2 separate regions of the Homo sapiens genome follow, and region 2 is linked to region 1. The links come from fine-mapping of genetic effects on gene expression. A gene starts in region 1. The other region holds a variant in brackets. All regions are shown on one strand. Distances are from middle to middle. Region 1 holds the start of GASK1A (golgi associated kinase 1A). Region 2 overlaps GASK1A (golgi associated kinase 1A).

Region 1 (10,815 bases):
GAGGAACTTCTTGGGAACTGGAGCAAAGGTAACTTTTGTTATGTTTTAGCAAAGAGACTGGCAGCATTTTGCCCCTGCCCTAGAGATATGTGGAACTTTGAACTTGAGAGAGATGATTTAGGGTATCTGGCAGAAGAAATTTCTAAGCAGCAAAGCATTCAAGAGGTGACTTGGGTGCTATTAAAGGCAGTTTCATAAGGGATGCAGAGCATAAAAGTTTGGAAAATTTGCAGCCTGATAATGGGAGAGAAAAGAAAATCCCATTTTCTGAGGAAAAGTCAAGCCAGCTGCAGAAATTTGCACAAGCAATGAGGAGCTGAATGTTAATCCCCAAGACAATGAAGAAAATGTCACCAGGGCATGTCAGAGGTCTTCACAGCAACCCCTCCCATCACAGGCCCAGAGGCTTAGGAGGAAAAAGTGGTTTTGTGGGCTGGGCTCAGGGTTCCCATACTGTGTGCAGCCTAGGGACTCGGTGCACTGCATCCCAGCTGTTCCAGCCATGGCTGAAAGGGTCCAATATAGAGCTTGGGCTGTGGCATCAGTGGGTGCAAGCCCCAAGCCTTGGCAGCTTCTACGTGGTGTTGAGCCTGCAAGTACACAGAAGTCACAAATTGGTGTTCAGGAACCTCCTCCTAGATTTCAGAGGATGTATGGAAATGCCTGGATGTCCAGGCAGAAGTTTGCTGCAGGAGTGGGGCCCTCTTTGAGAATCTCTGCCAGGGCAGTGTGGAAGGGAAATGTGGGGTGTGAACCCCCACCCAGAACCCCTACTAGGGCACTGCCTAATGGAGCTGTGAGAAGAGGGCCACAATCCTCCAGATCCCAGAATGGTAGATTCACCAATAGCTTGCATTGTGAACCTGGAAAAGCTGCAGACCACCCAATGCCAGCCTGTGAAAGTGGCCAGGAGGTGGGCTATACCCTGCAAAGCCACAGGGATGGAGCTGCCCAAGGCCACGGGAGCCCACCTCTTGCGTCAACATGACCTGGATGTGAGACATGGAGTCAAGGAGATAATTTTGGAACTTTAAGATTTGACTTCCTTGCTGGATTTCAGATTTACATGGGGCCTGTAGCCCCTTTGTTTTGGCCAATTTCTCCCATTTGGAATGGCTGTATTTACCCAATTCCTGTACCCCCATTGTATCTAGGAAATAACTAACTTGCTTTTGATTTTACAGGCTCATAGGCAGAAGGGACTTGTTTTGTCTCAGATGAGACATTGGACTGTGGACTTTTGAGTTAATGCTGAAATGAGTTAACACTTTGGGGGGACTGTTGAAAAGGCATGATTGGTTTTGAAATGTAAGGACATGACATTTGGGAGGGGCCAGGGCAGAATAATATGGTTTGGCTGTGTCCCCACCCAAATCTCATCTTGAATTCCCACATGTTGTGGGAGGGACCCTATGGGAGGTAATTGAATCATGGGAACAGATATTTCCCATGCTGTTTTCATGATAGTGAATAAGTCTCATGAGATCTGATGGCTTTGTAAGGCGGAGTTTCCCTGCACAAGCTCTCTCTCTCTTTGCCTGCTGCCATCCATGTAAGACGTGACTTGCTCTTCCTTGCCTTCTGCCACGATTGTGAGGCCATGTGGAATTCTAGGTCCATTAAACCTCTTTCTTTGGTAAATTGCCCAGTCTTGGGTATGTCTTTATCAACAGCATGAAAACAGACTAATATAGGGAGTAAATATTTGCTGAACAATAATGTAAGTTACCTCAGCCCCCTTCAAATGCTTCTGTGGGCCCCACCAATGACTTCCATTTGCTTCTTATTGGCTGTTCGTTTTTGCAAGGGAGGTTGTGAAATATATAATTTTTTGGCCAAGTATACTGCTTCCCCTTGAAATATACGAGTTAAGTGAATGAAAAAAAAGAATGTAAACTGGATGCTAACATTCTCTGCTGCAAAAGAAGTTTTTTTCTCATTCGTCATTCTTGGATTCAATAAATGTTTTTGAAAGTTTACCATGAGAAAAGTCCTGACTTGGATGTTGTAACTTATATGAGCACATTACATGGTTGCAGGAATCCAGGGAGTTAGGCTGGGCTGGGATGATGGTTCTTATCTGTCAGATGAGGAACCTGAACCAGTGGAGAGGAAGTGGCTTTGCTGAGGACCCATGCTTTGTGAGTGGTAGATTCAGTTTTGAACCTCAGTCTTCTCTGTCTCATTCCTTTATTCAGAAGCATTTATCAAGTAGCTACTTGGTACCAGGAAGATGGAGACAGAAGGCCCAGAATCGTCTTTTCTTCTAGGAAGTGAGAGTCACAGGAGATAATATTTGCAACAGAGAAACTTCAGGGGACATGCTGTGCTGGACCTTCAGGATGGGGAGGACTGGTGCAGGGAGGTATGTCAGGTTGGAAATAGGAATGTGTCAAGAAAAGGCTTTGAGATGGAGGAAACTGCCCTGAAGGAGGTTTATGAGTGTGTAAAAGGCTTGAAGAAGTAATCGGAGGTCAAACCTTGAAGGAGTCTGAAAGCTATGCTGCTGAGGAATTTGCACTTAATCCTGAGAGTTATGTGGAACAGGTCAGTGGCAGGCCCATGTTTACGTTTTGGCAGTAATGTGCAGGATGGATTGGAAAGAGCAAAAGTAGAGCCTGAGATGCTAGTTGAGTTTCTGAGAGTACTGTAAGTGATGACAAAAGTTTGAGCCAAAGAACTGGCCGTGAGGAGGAGAAAGATTCCAGAATCATTTAGAAAGGCCATTTGGATATGGGAGCCAAGGAAGAGGAATTGCGTCGTTCAGCAGTTCTCAGCCCTGGCTATGCTTAAAAAATATAAAGACACTCAAGCCTTGGAAATTTTGATTCAGTAAGTCTGGAATGGAGCTAGACATGGAATCTTATTAGAGAGTGGGCCTGTTGGGCCGCTGCCTGGGGTACCAGTTTATAAGAAACCCTAAAACGTCCTTAGAGCAAGTTGGAAATCTGCTAACTGGTGAAAGATAGACTCACTCCTAATGAACCTGGAGCACCCTGTCATGAAAATAATAAAATATTCCTCTCTAGCACCAACCTGTCCCAGTGGAGTGAGTTGAGTATTTCCTACTTGCAAGGTCTGCAGTGTAACCAGAGGCTCTGCCAACAACCTGGGAGCAGCCAACCACCAGTCAACAAAAATTTGGAAAGTAACAAAACATGAAGTGTTGTTTCCTAGAAGGGAGGGATTTACTGGTTATCTAAATTTAAAACCCTTTAATATAGCTTCCAAGAAGTTGCGGCCAGGCGCGGTGGCTCACGCCTGTAATCCCAGCACTTTGGGAGGCCGAGGCAGGTGGATCATGAGGTCAGGAGATCGAGACCATCCTGGCTAACAAGGTGAAACCCCGTCTCTACTAAAAATACAAAAAATTAGCCGGGCGCGGTGGCGGGCGCCTGTAGTCCCAGCTACTCGGGAGGCTGAGGCAGGAGAATGGCGTGAACCCGGGAAGCGGAGCTTGCAGTGAGCCGAGATTGCGCCACTGCAGTCCGCAGTCCGGCCTGGGCGACAGAGCGAGACTCCGTCTCAAAAAAAAAAAAAAAAAAAAAAAAGAATTACAAGGTGGAACTGAAGAGGAATGGAGTGTGCAATCTTAAATAGAGTGGTCAGAGAAGGCTTCACTAAAGAGGTGACACTTGGGCAAAGACCTGAAGGAGATGAGGGAGCAAACCATGGGGATATCTGGGGCATTCTAGGGAGAGGGATAACAAGTGCAAAGGTCCTGAGGTGGGATCTTGCCTGTAATATGCAAGGGACAATAAGAAGGTGAGTGTGTCCTGGAGCACAGTGAGAGAGAGTGTGCAGAGATAATGTTAGAGAACCAATGAGGGCCAAAGTGTGAAAGGACTTGTAGGCCCCTGTAAGATGTGGCATGTTACACTGCAGGAGATTTGAAGCCTCTGGTAGGTTTTGAGCAGAGAAATGACAAAAATCTGATTTATGACTCTTTTCAAGTAATTCTTCTTAAAAGTAATTTTATTCATGTTATTAGGATGGACCAGGATATGCTATAACAACAAACAATTCTTTACAGCTTAGCCATGTTCTTGTGTGACATTTTATTTGGCTGGGCTAGATCCTGCAGCAGCTTTTCCCAAGTGTGTTCCATGAGTCATTGGAGCTGCTTCTTTTGAAAAACAGTTCTGCTTCCAGTAATCCTGGAAATACTGGGCACTCTCTTCCTGTCTAAGTTAGTGATTTGAGACCATCATTAAAAATACATAAAATTGGAATAGAATAGAAAATGTCAGAGTGCATCACATGAAGTAATGTTTTATAAAACAATCTTTTAGTTACATTTATACATATATGTTTAATATATATCTTGTGTGGGGTCACAGTCAGAAAATGAGACTCAAAAGATCACAGCGTCTCCCTAAACATCTAAATAAAACCCTGAATGGTTTGTACTGTCCTCCACCCTCTTCCCTCATTTCCCAACCAGGGCTCAAACTCTCTGTCCTTTCAGTAGTCCATATGCACAGACAAGCTGCAGTTTGCAGTGCTACATCCTGCCTCCTGTTCCTGCCATATCAAGTCTTCCTCTTTGTTTCATGTTCTGGCAAATAGACTTGGATTTGCTAAACTGTTTACTGGCGATCTGGTCTCAGGAAAGTTACTTCACCTCCCTAATCCTGACTTTCCTAATTTGCAAAAGTTTTCCTTTTAGGATCGTTTGTGGTTATTAAATGAAATAATGTACAGAAAGCATCTGGAATGTTAAGGACCGAATACTTTCCCTTCATCTGTTCCTCCTGCCCATACACACATACACAATTTAAGGGGACTCTCTGGATCTTTGCTTCCCTTTAGAAGCACTGCCATCAGTGATAACCTCAGATCATTCTGGGGCAGGAGACTGCTGGGAAGATGCCTGTCTTCATCTAGCTAATGATGCTTCCTGTTAGTTTCAGTACTGGAGGCTAATTTTTCAGCCTGGCCCCCAAATTCTCTCAGAGCACCCTACTGCTGACTCTGCCTCGCCTCCATCCATTGTCTACAGGCTCTTAATAATCCTGGGGTCCAAACATTGGGCCACTGGGGGACACAAGTCATAAAGACGTCTGGGGACTGGTCGATGGTCATCCAGCTGTTAATAGTGGGGCTAGCCCTGATTTTGGGACTACAGAACCCCTAAGCCCAGGACATTCCCCAACGGGGAACGGATAGACTCTCAGGTCTTGCTCTGACTGTGCCTTTGTTGGCAGTAGGTGACTCAGGGGACACAAAGGCACTGTCTGTGCATCCAAAGCAGAGAGGTATCAGCCACTTACTTCAGTGACTTTAACAGTGATTAGTTCTCAAGGACAAAAACTCTTCATTGTTAATTAGCTTAGTGGTCAACGGATTTTCCTTCCAAATCCTCTTGGGGACTGAACCCAAACAAGGCGAAGAAGTGACAGTAAAAAAAGACTTGTCCTTCTGACAAGCGACAGTAAAGAAAAAGACTTGTCCTGCTTGGCAGGAGAGGGTGGCAGTTTGGGCAACACTCAGCCATATTGCTGAGTTGCAGCGAACTCACCAAGCACCCTCACACCTTAGAGGCGTCCCTCACCGTCCAGCCTTGGTGCATCACCCGTCAGGCGGGCAGTCAGGGCGTAGACCTTTCCTTCCTAGCACCTGGGCCCCTACTCCAGAAGACCAGAAGACTGCGGCTGGCCGAGCCCCCGGCAGGGCTTTTATTGTGAAGGGAGCTTCCCCCTCCCGCGCTTTCAGGGGAATGGGGAAGCTGGGCCGGGACGCGCGGCAGGGACTTTGCAAACTCTGCAAAAGTCCCGAGTAGACCGCAGAGGCTCGCGGCCGCGGGTAGGCTCCCTCAGATCCCCGTAGATCTCAGTAGATCCGGCGTGTATTCCCCACCCGCGGAGTATCCCGGTGTGCAGCGATCTCCCGAGAGTTGGCGCAGGGCCACTTGGCTGCAGAGAACGTGTGCACCTTCAGTCCGGGAAACCCGCCCCAGCCGAGTAGCCGCGCATCCTGGGAAGCCTGGCGAGCCACGGCGCCGGGGGCGGCCAAGGGGAGGCGGGATGAGTCTGCGAGCCGGCTGAGCGCGCCGAGGAGCCGGCCGGGGCACCGCCGGGGACATGGTAGGACTCGCGGGAAGGAACGCGCGAGCGGAGGGTGGGGCGATCACCAGGACAGGTGGCTGCAGTCAACGCGCAGCGGCCCAGGGCGCGCGCAGCCTGCGCGGCCTCCCGAGGCCGGAGTTGTTCCCCGAAAGTTGCATGGGGCGGCGGCGGCTTTCATTTCTGCACCAGAGCTGGGGGCGATCGGCTTTCCTGCCGCTCTTAGTGGGGCGGACCGTAATAAGGGGGCTTTTATTACTAATCTGCACTCCTTGACCTAACCGTAACCCACTCGCAACTCTGCAATCTTCATGCAATCCACAAGGCAGGGAGAGGGGAGCGTTCCCTGGGGAACCCACGGCAGCCTCTGATGAGATGCTTTTGAAGTCATTTTAATACTCTCCAAAGTTCATGTGAATTTTATACTATCTTCTCTAATTTAGCTATGTATTGATATTAAAAATAATGTCCTAACGTTTATTAACATTTAATAACTAAATTAACATTGAGTTAAATTGGCTCTAGTAAGGTTCCAATCCGCCTTCCTCTACCTCCCCGACAGGAGGACTGTTGGGCAGATGTGGAAGCACTGGTGGGTCTGGGATGTCACGATGAAACCAGGATCTTGTGGACGTGGCCCTTCCATTGATCAACTTCACAGACACTAACAGGCAGAAAAGAAAAACCCATCGAGAATGTGGCCCAGGCGGCTTAGCTAAAGGACACATGCAACCCCAGGAAAGGGGCGTCCCTCAGGCCCGGCCGCTGGTTAGTTGCTCTGCTTCTCCCGCAGCAGAAAACCCCTGCAACCCCAACTGGGCTCCTGCAGTTCACTGGGCTCCCCTGGCTGCTTCCGTGCCTGCTCGCCTCTTCCCTTTCCTTCCAAGCTCACAGAAGGCAGATCGGAACCCACTGGAGATGCTTTGTGGGGAGTTTTGCTGGGCCTGGGGTTTAGAAGGCTGTCTAGAGACTGCGCTGTAGGATGGAGGGTCTCTGTGAGAACAGCTCCTTTGTGTGCAGGGGGGCCTGGCAGGTGGCTGGAACAGAGGTGGAGGGCTGGTCATAAGGAGCTGGGGGCTCAGGGAAGGGTACCTTTGAGGCTAGGGGTGTGTGTATGTTTCACCCCTCCTAACACCTATCCAGCTTCAGGTTTTTTCTCAAAGCTGCTAAGAGAAGGAAATAGTGGAATCTTAAGCTTCAAAAGGGGGAATGATTGGGGGTACAGGATGTGAAACGAAAAGTGTGGAGATATCCTATTACAAATTCCCTGTTTAGGAGCAAGAGTGTTACCAGAACTCAGGCCACAGCCATCCACTCCGAGGGGCATTAGCATGCTGGAGTCTCCTGGCTTTAAAGGCAAATGTAGCAGAGGCTCTGTGGTCTGCGGCTGAAGCAGAGTGCCTGGAGGAGAGATGGTACCTGCCTTCTGCTCAGGCTGCCTAGGGGAACATTGGTGTGTTTGCCCCACTGCCAGCGTAAGCTTCCCGTTCTGTGAGTCATTGCAGCTTCCCGGTTTCACGTCCCTGGCTCTGGGTTCTGGTATTGTGTTAGGAAGAGGACTTGTGTCAACATTTCACTGTCTCAGGGTTCACTTGCAGAGAGAGGGGCCTGATGGTCATCCTCTGGCAGTGAAATGGCCTTGGAGATCTGAAGGCTGTCCTTTGCTTCTCCATCTGAATGAAGGGTCTTGAGGTCCAGAGACCACAGGGCAGCCTGGCACTGGCTAGAAGCAGCATGGGAGGAGACAGGGGGCTAGGAATCCTTTGAGGACCTTAGTTTCCTCTTCTGTTAGATGAGAGATTGGACTAGATGTTATTCAAGGTGCCATTTAGCTCCAAAAATGGGTGATATGTGAATAATTTTGAGATTGGATCTCAATTCTAGTGTTGAGCTGTGCTTAGCATGAACAACTAAAAAGGTGTGGGGAAGAAGTGGTTCTCAGCCCTGACTCAGGCTGCCCCCATCCCCCAGCCCAAATCCAGATGAGACCCAGACCAAGGGATGTTTTCAGGCTCTGCAAGTGAGCCCAGTGTGCTGCCAGGGCTGAGAACCACAGGGCAAGAAGGCTGAGAGAACGGGAGAAAGCTGGGGCTCAAAGCTGCACTTCCCAAGATATCCCTATGTCCACAGAGTGGTCATTCCTTGAGATAGTCCTAAAATAGTTTTTGGGAAATGATAGATGCTATATCATTTCCCATTATATGATATCACATATATCACATGCTATATCTCTTTGAGGGTCCTTCCACAGAGTATTGTCTTTTAATTCATTACACTGAGATTTGAACTTGCCCAGCTTGTTTGAATACGGTATCCTTTATTCAGTATTTCCCTAATGCCATCCTATTATTGATCCAAGATACGTATGATGGGAAACTCTGGGTTAGAAGTATACAAATAAAAGTATAGAATCCTTAAATGTCCTTTTGAAAAAAAGAAAAAAGAAAAGAGCATTGAGCTGCAGTATCTGCGGGGGCATTTTTGATTATCCTGAGGAGTCAGGGGTCATTGCCATGGCTTGGTGTGTATTTTTCTAAAGCGAAGATTGGAACACTTGTCAGTTTCTTTCTTTGCAGTGGTGGTGGGAGGTTTGGTGTTTGCCAAGGACTCTGTACTTGATGAAAAATATTGATAGAATCAGATATATATGTGTTGGGTTAAAAATTAAAAAAGAAAAATATTGATAGAGAAAGTTGAAACTATTACTGCCAATTAAAAAATGTTTTCCTCCTGATTTTTGAGAAAAAATACACAACTTCTACAGGAACCATGATTATCATTTTGGCATATTTCCTATTCTCTTTGAGTATTATTTTAAAGAGCTGAGATTTCACCACACATGGAATTTTGCAGTCTGATTTGTTTTACTTCAGTTTATATCAAAGCACGTTTCCATGTCTACATCTCTAGAAAAATCTTTTATAACCATACATTTAATGCTCAGTACCGTGATTTTGATAATCATCTCCCCATTTTTGGACATTTAGGTCACTTCAGGATTGGGGCTGATTTCAGTGGCATGTGGCCAGCTTCTCATTATCCATGGAAATGAGGACCTGAGTGCCCAGCTAAGTGGAAATCAGAAAAATTCACAAGAATGAATTGCTCCGGCCTCTTTCTCTATCCAAGCTCTTACTGTAACTACCCTCCCAGGGCCCAGCGTGCTGTGGGAGGAGTTTCCTCTTGCCTGTCTTCACTCTGTGCTGTGGGCAGGTCATCAGGCAGGCAGCAGTGGGGGCAATGGAGTCCCAGGGGAGCCCACATGGGCCAGTCCTCCTTGGGAGAACCAAGAGCTAAAATCCCTGGAGGTTAAGACTCAGAGGACAAGTAGCTGAAGCTGGAAAAGGGATGTGGCCTCTTTAGGGTCACTTAGAGCCAGGCTAGGGCCCGGGTCTCCTAGTTCTTCCCCTCCACTCTCCATGTAGGTCCTGTCACAGTCACTACAGCCCCATCATAGAATTGAGGGATGTGGTGTGGCTTGGAGTGGCAGAGGAAAGGCCTGGGGTTTGCAGTCAGAATGGGGTTTGTGCTGGGCTAGGTCACCGTGTGGCTCTGGGTAAGCGCTGCCTTGCTCTGAACCTTAGCCCCTTATCTGTAAAATGAGTCATTGTGAGGAGCAAATGGAGTCATGGAGGTGAAAATACTTGGTGTCTCAAAGGTGCTGTAAGATTGGGGGCTTTACAAACGACCCACAAAAATAGGTTTGCTTTTTGTTAGGGTCTAAAATGGTAAGGAAGTCACAGGTGCCTTTCATTCAATACCAGTCAAGGGGATGCTTCTGGGACTCTTCTCTAAGTAAGGATCTAGTATAGATGAAATTTACCCTCAAGTAGTTTTCTTGCTTCTTTAAGTCTCTCTTCTCATCAGGCAGGAAAACCCAGCCTGCAGATGTTCGTCCAGTCTGTCTCCCTTGCAGAATGCTGCTGACTGGATGAGAATGTAGCTCCCCAAACAGCCGCAGGTCCTTGGAATCTACTGCTGGGGTCCCCTCATTGAGTCCCTCTGCACTGAATGAGTCGCAGAAGTCATCAGGCTTAGCTAAAGAAGAGGTTAAACTGGTATTGGAACCTTGAAATGCAGCCCATGGAGCCTGTGGGAAATTTGATCCCCTCTCTCTTCTGGGGTACAGCCCTTACTTGCAGCTCCTGCTGCATACCTGACCCAGGCTTTGTGCAGGGCTGGGCAGGGAGCAGAGTGTTTTAAAGAATCTACTGGCCCCAACCATACCAAACAGAGGTTGATCCAAAAAACAGGGATGTCGGGGGTGGTGGGAACAGGCCTCACAAAGAAATGAGTTCCTTAGTTGTTTCAGGGACTAGTGAGAGAAACATGCTTCAGCTTGGCCTCAAAGATGCCGACATCCTTCCAATAGGTCTGGGAGGCCCAATGTCTGCTCCCCACCTAAGGTACTAGTAGAGACACAGAGTGCATCAGTTTTCTTTGAGGCATGGTTGCTGTGAGTCACCTGGGGCTGTCTTTGCTTGGATCATCTTGTGATGTGACTGCTAAAGTGTTTCTGCCTAGGGAGTTTAGGGCGTGATCCCTCATTTTCTGGATGTGTCTGCACAGGCCTGTGTGTGAAGGACCACTTGGCCTGAGATTGAGGATGAGAGGGAGCCATGATTGTGGGAAAATCCCAGGCCGCCCTTCTTTATGTGGATTTCACTTCCTATCTCTCTCTCTCTCTCTTTCTCTCTCTCTCACACACACACACGCTGACTTTCACACATCACACATATACTCATACACA
Region 2 (10,815 bases), 32 kb after region 1:
CCCATTTCAAGACCCTTAATTTAATCACACCGTCCGAATCCCTCTAACCACATAAGGTAACTTGTTCACAGGTTTGGGGATTAGGACATGGATATCTTAACGGCTGAGCAGTATCCAGTAGTACCCTTGGTTTCACTTTCCACAGTTTCAGTTACCCAAGGTTACCTGCAGTCTGAAAATATTAAATGGAAAATTCCAGAAATACACAATTTATGTTTTCATTTGTGTGTTGTACTGAGTAGTGTGATGAATCTTGTGGCATCTCGCTCTGTCCTACCTGGGACATGAGTCATCCCTTTGTCCAGTATATTCACACTGCAGATGCTCTCTGCCCATTAGTAACTTAGTAGCTGTCTCAGTTATCAGATGGCTATTGGAGTACTGCATTGCCCATGTTCAAGTAAACCTTATTTTACTTCATCATGGCCCAAAGTGCAAGAGTAGTGATCCTGCAATTGGAGTGTGACAAAGAGACGCTGAAAGTGCTTCATTTAAGTGAGAAGATGAAAGTTTCTCTACTTAAGAAAAAAAAATCGTAGGCTGGGGTTGCTAAGATCTGCAGTAAGAATGAATCTGCTATCTGTGAAATTGTCTTCTGAAGAAAGAGAAATTCATGCTAGTTTTGCTGCTGCACCTCAAACTGTGGCAAAAGTTACAGCCAAAGTGTGTGATAAGTGCTTCATTAAGATGGAAAAGGCATTCAATTTGTGGGTGGAAGACATGAACTTCTAGAAATGTGTTCTGATTTATGGCAATGGGATTTGGTACTGTCCAAGGTTTCAGGCATCCGCTGGGGGGCTTGGAACGTATCTTCCAAGGATAAGGGGTAGGGACTGCTGTATTATATTATGATCACCTTTCCTTTCCTGGGCACCTTTCTGTTTCTCTCTAGTTAGTAATCATCTTTTTTGTTTCCTTAGTTTTTTTCATGTACTTATCACAAGCCAACTTCCTCTTAATAGACTCAAGCACACATCAATTTCTTTCTTTGGAAACCCCCTGCCCAGAGCCTTTTGACCTGCTCCTTCTGAGCTGGTCGCTTTCTTGGTCGGTGCACAGCCGTTGGCTTAGGATCCTCCTTTCCCAGCATCCCACGAGTCTCTTTGCCTCTCTTGTTTTGCATCTTTGTTTCCTGCATCCCATGTCTTCCTCTTTCTTGGCTTACCTCCTGGTTTTAGTGGAGTAATTTAACCAATAGCTTGTTAAAAGTGACTACAGGAGGGGTAAACCATGTTGAAATGTTATATGCCTGAAATTGCCTTCATTCTACCCTCATATTTGATTGATAGTTTGGCTTGAGTATAGAATTAAAAGAAATAATTTTCTGTCAGATTTTGAAGGCTTTGCTCAATGGTGCTCTAGCCTCGGGTATTGTAGTAAAGAAGTCCACAGCCATTCTGATTCTTGATTACTTGGTATAAAACTTGTTTTATTTTTTTCTCCCTTTCTCTCTGGAAACTTGGAGGATATTTTCCCCAGTGTTCTGAAGCTTTACAATGATGTGCCTTGGTTTGTCTTAACCTGGTTTTCTAATAACAGAGCCCGAGGCTGGAGGCTTATGTGCTGTTATTTGGGAGTACAATCTCAGGAAACACCCAAAGAGAAGCAGGGAAACAGGAGAGATGATATGGCGATGTATTATCAAGCTGGCTGCTGCTACAGGCAATTGATTGTGTGATCCTATGGACCTATCCAAGAAGCTGCATAAATTGAATTCAGGACCACTTGAATTTACCCACTGTCTTCAGTCTCCCAATGATCAAAGCTTTGCTCCACTCGACATAAGTTTCCCTATACTTCCGGGTTGTGTACCCCTCAGTATCACACACCTGATAGTCATAGGAGAGCAGGTGAGAGGCACAGCACTGCCAAGTGGTGAAGCTCAGGATAGGTGGCCCCAAGCAGCCATTGCTATTGAAGCTTTTGCTTTTAATGGCTGCAGCAACAAACTGTCTCCATGACCATGGAAACAGGACATACTGTTGCTAGTGGGTGATCTCATCAAAATACAAGTGTGTGGGGCAATTGCAAATATCTGAATTCCATACCACTAAGGTCTCACTTTTTAGCCATTGTGTTGGATACTTGGGGGGCCCTTGCAATATTTCAATGTTCAGCATGTAAATGTTCTCTTAAAACTCCTGTTTTCAGTATAGTCCCCACTGCCCTCAACTGTCCCAGGTGTCTCCCAGCATGTAGCTTCCCTAGCTTTCTCTCTCCATAGAACAAACTTTCAGTCTTCTGCTGGGTGCAGGAGGGGCAGCTGCCTGACTTCACAGTATGGAGATCTGGGTGTCTAGCTTCTTCTTAAGTCGACTTTCAGCCAATCCTTTTGTTTTTTATCCTATCAGCACCAGTCCTTTACCTGTTGGGGGCTCCCTTGGTGTAAATCATGTTGAGTTTTGACCTGCCTTCTAGTTTAGGATTCAGCTTTCATGAGTCTGCTCAGGCCATTGCTACTCATTCACCTGCTTTCCAGCTTCCTGAATTTTGCTTTTATGGTTGACTGCTTTCCTGTTCTCTTTATCCTTAGAGGTTTGTTCTTTAAAAATAAGAACACTTTACTGTTATTTTCATATTTCAGGAGGAAAGAAAGAGAATAGCAGGTGCTTAGTCTACCATTTTTAGCTGAACAACAGCATTACTTTTCTAAATCAAATTGTCTGGCTCCAAGCCTGTCCTCACCTAGGTGACCTGATATCAGTCAGACAGCCCAGCTCAATTTACCTTTAGGAGCCTTGGTTGGCTTTTAAAGCAAAGGCCTTTTTATTCTATCCTGGGGCAGGAAGAGGATGGCTTCCAGCTCTCCGGGTTTGCTTGCTTGCTTGCTTGCTTGGAGAAGAAAGGCAGGTGGAGAAACAACTCTTATTCTTTTAGGCTTCTATAATAGCAGGGTCAAAACTCCGGCTAATAAACTGATGGAGTTAGCTAGACCTGGGTTTGAGTCTAACTCTGCCACTTAGCTATGAGGCTGTAAGAAACTGACATAAGCTGTCTATGCCTCAGTTTCCTCAGCTTCCCAATGTGAGGAATGATACCTCCCTTCCAGGGAGGTTGCAGGAAGTAGAGGAACTGTCTTATCAGGTACCTGGCACAGGGTCTGGCATGGGAGATGCTCAACAATGCTGGCTACAGTTGGTGTTCTGGAGTCTCTCGAGGGAGGACCTCCACGCCTCCATGGTGCCACGTGCACCCCCAGACGTGGCTGCCTGCCTCCTTCCTAGTCCTCTGAAGCCGGAGGTCACCTGGCTGGAAGGAGCTCTATGCCCACGGTTGTCAGGAAATGCCTCATGAGCATCCCCACTGCAAGGCCTCTTTATTTCCCATTCAGTGTACAGGCTTCCTATCTGATAGACTCACTGAAGGAAAAAGGAAAGATTTAATTTTTCCATCTCAGATTTCAACTATAGCTTTGTTTTAACCTTCTCAAGTGCCAGTCTTCTAAGAGGTATTTTGTGTCTGAGCCCTGCTTTCCTGCTGCCAGGCATCTGCCCAGGAATGCTTTCGCCCTCACCAGGACTCTACAGGTGTGTACAGAGCAGCCATGCTTTAGAAGTCAACTGCACTTAGGAGCAGCAGAGCAGGGAGTCAGAGGTCACTCTTTTGGTCACTTGAGCAAGTGGTGGCTCTGAGGAGGCACGTTGGTATCAGTCCCTGAAACCTCTTCACACGCTTTCCTCTCAGTTATGGTTTGCCAGTGTTCAGAATGCTGTGACTGTAACTGTTACCAGCCCATCCACAGATGGAGAGAGTGCGGCATGGGGCAGTAACTTAAAGGAGGTGCTGGAGTTCCCAAGTACCTTGGAGATTTAATAATCATGAGATTTAATGATAATGCTAAGTAATAACTATAAAAATGTATGCAAGGCTCTGTTCTCAGCACTTTATATACATTAAAATATGTTGAATCCTCACAGCAACTCTTTGAGGGAGGAACCATTTTCATACTCATTTTTCAGATGCAGAAATTGATGTGAAGATATATGCTTATTAGGGCAAAGCTGGGGGGTTGGACCTAGAGAGTCCAGCTCCTGTGTATCCTTCAGCGCATCCTTCTAGATGTTGCCTTTCTGAAGTGAGTGTAAGTATTTGTTGAAAGATAACACAACTCATCATCTCCCATGTCTCAGCTGGTATCAGGAACCCCAGCCAATGTAATGAAGAGACGGATCCAGGTATTTCTCAGGTCTTTAAAATCCTTCTGCTAGCACTGCTTCCCCCAGGTTATCTGGGCGCATTGAAAATGCTTCTGGATAAACCCCTGATGGCCTGAGCTAATTCTTTCCCCCATGTGCCCTGAAGTCCCCAGGGCCAGAACTGGCTCCTGTGTGCTGGGAAGGGCTTGGTCTCTGCAGGCTGGAGGCCAGAGTTGGAATCTCAGCTCTTCTACTTAGATGGTGTGTCACCTTGAGCAAATTTTGAAGTCTCTTTTTCGAGTTCCTCAGCCATAAAATGGTATGATATTTCCTTCCTACCTGTTAGAGTCATTGTGAGAATATCTGGAGGCAACATCCTTCTAGCCATAACAGTGAAAAACATGTAACAAACTCATGGTGTCATCAGATGTTGGTGGAGACCTCAGGTGGTGGCACCCAGAACTGCTGTCCAGCATTCCATGCTTCACCAGCCCTGTCCCACAAGTTTGGAAAGATAAGTGGCCTGAACGTAGGCAAGGCTAGATTTGCCAGAATTGGCATGAGGGAAATTATTATATCATTACCTTTTCACTTGAGACAGTGAGTTGCTGGGGGGCAGGGGCCAAGCCTTCTTCGCACTGGTGTCCTTATTTCTTGGTCCAGTGCTTGGCATTAGGGGAGGTCAGAATAGAAGGATAAAATTGTAATGCAGCACAATTTTTCTGGGGAGCAACCTCACCCCTACACTGTTCCTTTGGAGGAAGCTGCCTCCTGCCCCAGGGTGCTCTGGATTCCCACACTGGTTCCCTGAGGGTCTCCAAAGTACGTGCCTAACATCATATGCCTTTCCCAGTATCCTTCACTCCCTGTTGTCTACCAGTCACATGTTGGGTTCCAGGCCGTTATATATAGCAACTCAGTACCTACAATAACAGAAACCACTCTGGTGAAGGAGGGAGTCTGAAAAGGTGAACTCGTACTCAGATATTACCCAGCCAGAGCCTTCTTCCTGCTAGGCCATACTCTTCAGTAGAACCCTAATGCTTTCAGGGCTTCTCAAGAAAGCCTAGTTCTTGAGGCTTTCTCAAATCCCCGAATTTGAGAAACACCATTATAGCATTTTATATTCTCCCATGAAATACAGTAGAGTGGGCTGCAAGAGTTAAATTTTCAATTTCTATCACTGTCCTTGAAAAATAATTTTTACCTTGGCTGAGGCCTTTGCTGAAACGATTTTTTGAATTGCTTTTCGTATTTCATGAGGGTGGAGAATTCATTTGGATTATAGATTTCTGCCATCTCTAAGTTTGACATTCCTTTCTTTCTTGCTTTAAAAGCTAATATTTTCTAGGTCTTGTCTCCCTGTGTACCACTTCCTCCCCACACCCATCCCAACTGAGAACCATCATTTTCTAAGGCTTCTTTTGGTTTTCATTCCTTCCCCAGCACTAGCTATTGCCATTTGTTCTCCAAGGAAGTTTCCATCACATAATAAGATTACAATATCCCTGATGTTATGCTATGGAAGCTAAGCAGCAGAACCTGGGCAGACAGCCATGGACACATGGATGGCTCCTCCTACCATATTTGCTTGAAGTAAATGAGATTCAGATCTGAGCCTCAGAGGAATTTCAAATTGCACCCTGCCATGGACCTTTAGCCTCTTACCTTCCCCAACTCCCCCCTCTCCACCCACCAACAAATCCATTAAGGTAAAATATCTATAGTGTTTTTAACTGTTCAAAATAGTTTTCTTCAAATGTGCCAAGAGGGCATTTGCTTAGGCAGATTAAGAAATGGGCCAGGCATGGTGACT[C/G]ACGCCTGTAATCCCAACACTTTGGGAGGCCGAGGTGGGCAGATCACGAGGTCAGGAGATCAAGATCATCCTGGCCAACATGGTGAAACCCTGTCTCTACTAAAAATATAAAAATTAGCTGGGTGTGGTGGCGTGCGCCTGTAGTCCCAGCTACTTGAGAGGCTGAGGCAGGAGAATCACTTGAACCTGGAGGGCAGAGGTTGCAGTGAGCCGAGGTCGCACCACTGCACTCCAGCCTGGCGACAGAGTGAGACTCCATCTCAAAAAAAAAAAAAAAAAAAATGGTTAGGAGATCACAAGAGATTTTTATTGCAAATAGGAACCTTTTTCTGTATGTAAGAACCCACTGTGTGGGCTGTCATTTACAAGGCAGGGCTGGCTTCTAGGATTTAGCACACACTGAATTGCAGCAAGTCAAGGCTGTGTGAAGCCATGGGAAATGGCTGTGTGAAGTCACAGAAAGGGACAATGTGAAGTCACAGGAAGAAGCAGAGTGAAGTCACAGGAAGGAGCAGTGTGAAACAATAGGAAGGGGCTGGAAGATGTCATAAGAAGAAATTATGTGAAGTCACAGGAAGGGGCTGTGTGGAGCCAGAGAAAGGGGCTACGTGACATCACAGGAAGGAACTGTGTGAAGCCAAGGGAAGGGGCTGTGTGAAGTCACAGGAGGAGGCTGTGTGAAGCCACAGGGTCAGTATGAAGCCACAGGAAGAGGCAGTGTGACGTTAGGAAGGGGCTGTGTGAAGCCAAGGAAGGGGCTGTGTGAAGTCATAGGAAGGGGTAGTGTGAAGCCAGATAAAAGGGCAGTGTGAAGTCACAGGAAGCGGCAGTGTGAAGCCAAAGGAAGGAGCAGTGTGAAGCCAAATAAAGGGGCTGTGTGAAGTAACAGGGACAGTGTGAAGCCAAAGGAAGGGGCAATGTGAGGCCAAAGGAAGGGACAGTGTTGAGCCATAGGCAGGGGCTGTGTGAAGCCACAGGAAGGGGAATGGGAAGTCACAGGAAGGAGCAGTGGGAAGTCACAAAAAGGGACTGTGGAAAGTCACAGGAAGGGGCAGAGGGAAGTCACAGGAAGAGGCTGTGGGAAGCCATAGAAAGGGGCTGTTTGAAGCCACTGGAAGGGGCTTCTGAGGTCACAGGAAGGGGCAGTGTGAGGTCACAGGAAGGGGCTGTGTGAAGCCACTGGAAGTAGCTGTGTGAAGCCACTGGAAGGGGCAGTGTGAAGCCACTGAATGGGACAGTGTGAAGCCACAGGAAGGGGCTGTGTGATGTCACAAGTAGGGGCAGGGTGAACTTACAGGAAGTGGCTCTGTTAAGCCACAGGAAGGGGCAGTGTGAAGCCACAGGAAGGCACAGTGTGAAGTCACATGAAAGGGGCTGTGTGAAGTCACAGGAAGGGAAGTGGAAAGTCACATGAAGGGGCTATGTGAAGTCACAGGGAAGGGCAGTGTGGAGCCACAGGCAGTGTGAGGCCACAGGAAGGAGCTGTGTGAAGTCACAGGAAGGGAAGTGGAAAGTCACATGAAGGGGATATGTGAAGTCACAGGGAAGGGCAGTGTGGAGCCACAGGCAGTGTGAGGCCACAGGAAGGAGCTGTGTGAAGTCACAGGAAGGGAAGTGGAAAGTCACATGAAGGGGCTATGTGAAGTCACAGGGAAGGGCAGTGTGGAGCCACAGGCAGTGTGAGGCCACAGGAAGGAGCTGTGTGTAGCCACAGGAAGGGGCAGTGTGAAGTCACAGGAAGGGGCAATGGGGTCACAGGAAGGGGCTATGTGAAGTCAGAGAAAGGGGGGTTGTGTGAGGCCACAGGAAGAAGCAGTGTGAAGCCACAGGAAGGGGCTGTGTGAATCACAGGAAGAGGCAGTGTGAAGTTACAGAAGGGGCTTTGTGAAGCCACAGGAAGGGGCATGGGAAATCACGGGAATGAGCTGTGGGAAGTCACAGGGAGGGGCAGAGGGAAGTCACAGGAAGGGGCAGTGGAAAGTCACAAGAAGGAGTGTGTGAAGCCACTGAAAGGGGCAGTGTGAAGTCACAGGAAGGGGCAGTATGAGGTCACAGGAAGGGGCTGTGTGAAGTCACTGGAAGGGGCAGTGAGAAGTCACAGGGAGTGGCTGTGGGAAGTCACAGGAAGAGGCAATGTGAAGCCACAGGAATGGGCAGTGTGAAATCGCAGGTAGAGGCTCTGTGAATCCACAGGAAGGGGCAGTGAGAAGTCACAGAGGCAGTGTGAAGTCAAAGGAAGGGGCCGTGTGAAACCACAGCAAGGGGTGCTGTGAAGTCACAGGAAGGGGCAGTGTGAGGCCACAGGAATGGGCAGTAGGAAGTTACAAGAAGGTGCAGTGGGAAGTAACAGCAAGGGGCTGTGTCAAGTCACAGGAAGGGGCTGTGTGAAGCCACAGGAAGAGGCAGTGGGTAGTCACAGGAACAGGCATTGTGAAGCCACAGGGAGGGGTATTGTGAAGCCAAAGAAGTGGCAGTGTGAAGCAACAGGAAGGGACAGTGGGAAGTCACAGAAAGGGGCAGTGTGAGGCCACCAGAATGTGCAGTGGGAAGTTACAGGAAGGTGCTGTGTGAAGTCACAGGAAGGGGCTGTGGGAAGTCACAGGACAGGGTAGTGTGATATCACAGGAAGGAACTGGGTAAAGCCACTGGATGGGGCTACGTGAAGTCACAGGAAGTGGCTGTATGAACTCACACAAAGGGGCTAGGTGAGGTCAGAGGAAGTGGCAGTGTGAGTTCACAGGCAGGGGCTTTGTGAAACCACAGGAAGGGGCAGTGGGAAGTCACAAGAAGTGGCTGTTGGAAGTCACAGGAAGAGGCAGTGTGAAGTCACAGGAAGGGTAATGTGAAGCCACAGGAAGGGGCTGTGTGAAGCCACAGAATGGGGCTTTGAAAAGCGGCAGGAAGGGGTAGTGTGAAGTCACAGGAAGAGGTGGTGTGATGCCACAGGAAGGGACTGTGTGAAGCCACAGGAAGGGGCAGTAGGAAGTCACAGGAAGGGGCTGTGTGAAGCCACAGGAAGGGGGAGTGTTAAACCACAGGAAGGCACAGTGTGAAGTCACAGGAAGGGGCTGTGTGAAGTCACAGGTAGGGACAGGGGGTAGTCACAGGAAGGTGCTGTGTGAAGCCACAGGCAGGGTCAGTGAGAAGTCACGGGAAGAAGGAGTGTGAAGTCATGGGAAGGGGCTGTCTGAAGTCACAGGAAGAGGCAGTGGGATGTCAAAGGAAGGGATGGTGTGAAGTCAGAGGAAGAAGCTGTGTGAAGTCACAGGAAAGGCCAGTGTGAAGCCACAAGAAGGGGCAGTCTGAAGCCACAGAAGGGGCAGTGTGACGTCACAGGAAGAGGCAGTGTGAAGCCACAGGGAGGGTAGTGTGAAGCCAAAAGGAGGGGCATTGTGCAGCCACAGGAAGGGGCATTGGGAAGTCACAGGAAGTGGCTGTGGGAAGTTGCAGGAAGGGGCTGCAGGGAGTCACAGGAAGTGGCTTTGTGAAGTCGCAGTATGGGACAGTGGGAAGTCAGAATGAGTGGCTATGGGAAGTCACAAGAAGTGGCCATGTGAAGTCACAGGAAGAGACAGTATGAAGTCATAGGAAGGCGTGGTATGAAGTCACAGGCAGGGTTCTGTGTGAAGCCACAGGAAAGGGCACTTTGATATCACAGGAATGGGCAATGTGAAGTCACTGGAAGCGGTGGTGTGAAGCTACAGGAAAGGCCAATGGGAAGTCATAGGAAGGGGCTGTGTGAAGCCAAAGGAAGAGGCACTGTGAAATCACAGGAAGAGGCTGTTTTACGCCCTGGGAATGGGCAGTGTGAAGCTACTGGAAGGGGCTTGTGTGGTCACAGGAAGTGGGAATTTGAGGTCACAGGAAGGGACTGTGTGAAGCCACAGGAAGGGACAGTGAGAAGTCACAGAAAGGGGCTGGGTGAAGTCACAGGAAGTGGCTGTGTGAAGCCACTAGGAGGGGCAGTGTGAAGCCACAGGAAGGGGCTCTGTGACATCACAGGTAGGGGCAGTGTGAAGTCACAGGAAGGGGCTGTGGGAAGTCACAGAAAGGGGCAGGGTGGTGTGAAATAACAGGGAGGGGCAGTATGACATCACAGGAAGGGGCAGTGGGAAGTCACAGGAAGGAGCAGTGCGAATTCTCAGGAAGGGGCTGTGGGAAGCCACAGGAAGGGGCTGTGTGAAGCCACTGTAAGGGGCTTGTGAGGTCACAGGAAGGGGCAGTGTGAAGTCACAGGAAGGGGCGGTGTGAAGTGATAGGAAGGGGCAGTGAGAAGTCACAGGTAGGGGCTGTGTGAAGTCACAGGATCTCTGGCTGTGTGAAGACACAGAAAGGGGCAGTGTGAAGTCACAGGAAGGGGCAGTGTGAAGCCACAGGAAGGGGCAGTGTGAAGCCATAGGAAGGTACAGTGTGAAGTCACAAGAAAGGGGCTGTGTGAGGCCACAGGAAGGGGCTGTGCAAAGTCACAGGAAGGAAAGTAGGAAGTCACAGGAAGCGGGTGTGTGAAGTCACTGAAAGGGGCTGTGTGAAGCCACAGGAAGGGGCAGTGGGAAGTCACAGGTAGAGGCAGTGTGAAGCCACAGGCAGGGAGGTGCTGTGTGAGGCCACAGCAAGGGGCCATGTGTAGCCACAGAAAGGGGCAGTGTTAAGTCACAGGAAGGGGCAGGGCAGTGTGAAGTAACAGGGAGGGGCAGGGCAGTGTGAAGCCACAGGAAGAGGCTGTGTGATGCCACAGGAAGGGGCACTGTGAAGTCACAGGAAGAGGCAGTGTAAAGCCACAGGGAGGGGCAGTGTGAAGCCAAAGGAAGGGGCAGTGTAAAGCCACAGGAAGGGTCTGTGTGAAGCCACAGGAAGGGTCTGTGT

The links. PIP is the estimated chance that this variant, and not a neighbour inherited with it, causes the effect.
Region 2: its variant is the best candidate, but not a certain one, in a credible set for the expression of GASK1A in anterior cingulate cortex (GTEx, PIP 0.69).

Annotation. Positions count from the first base shown.
Region 1 is chr3:42,973,560-42,984,374 of GRCh38, forward strand. It overlaps GASK1A (golgi associated kinase 1A), which reads left to right and starts at 5,752. Exons shown (of 5, transcript NM_001129908.3): 1 at 5,752-6,086. The coding sequence starts at 6,084. RefSeq lists enhancers at 10,275-10,775, 10,776-10,815.
Region 2 is chr3:43,005,167-43,015,981 of GRCh38, forward strand. The region is part of intron 1 of GASK1A (golgi associated kinase 1A); the gene reads left to right. Among named protein-coding and RNA genes, the nearest start is that of GASK1A, 31 kb to the left of the region's middle. The variant C/G (reference allele first, on the strand shown) is at 5,953.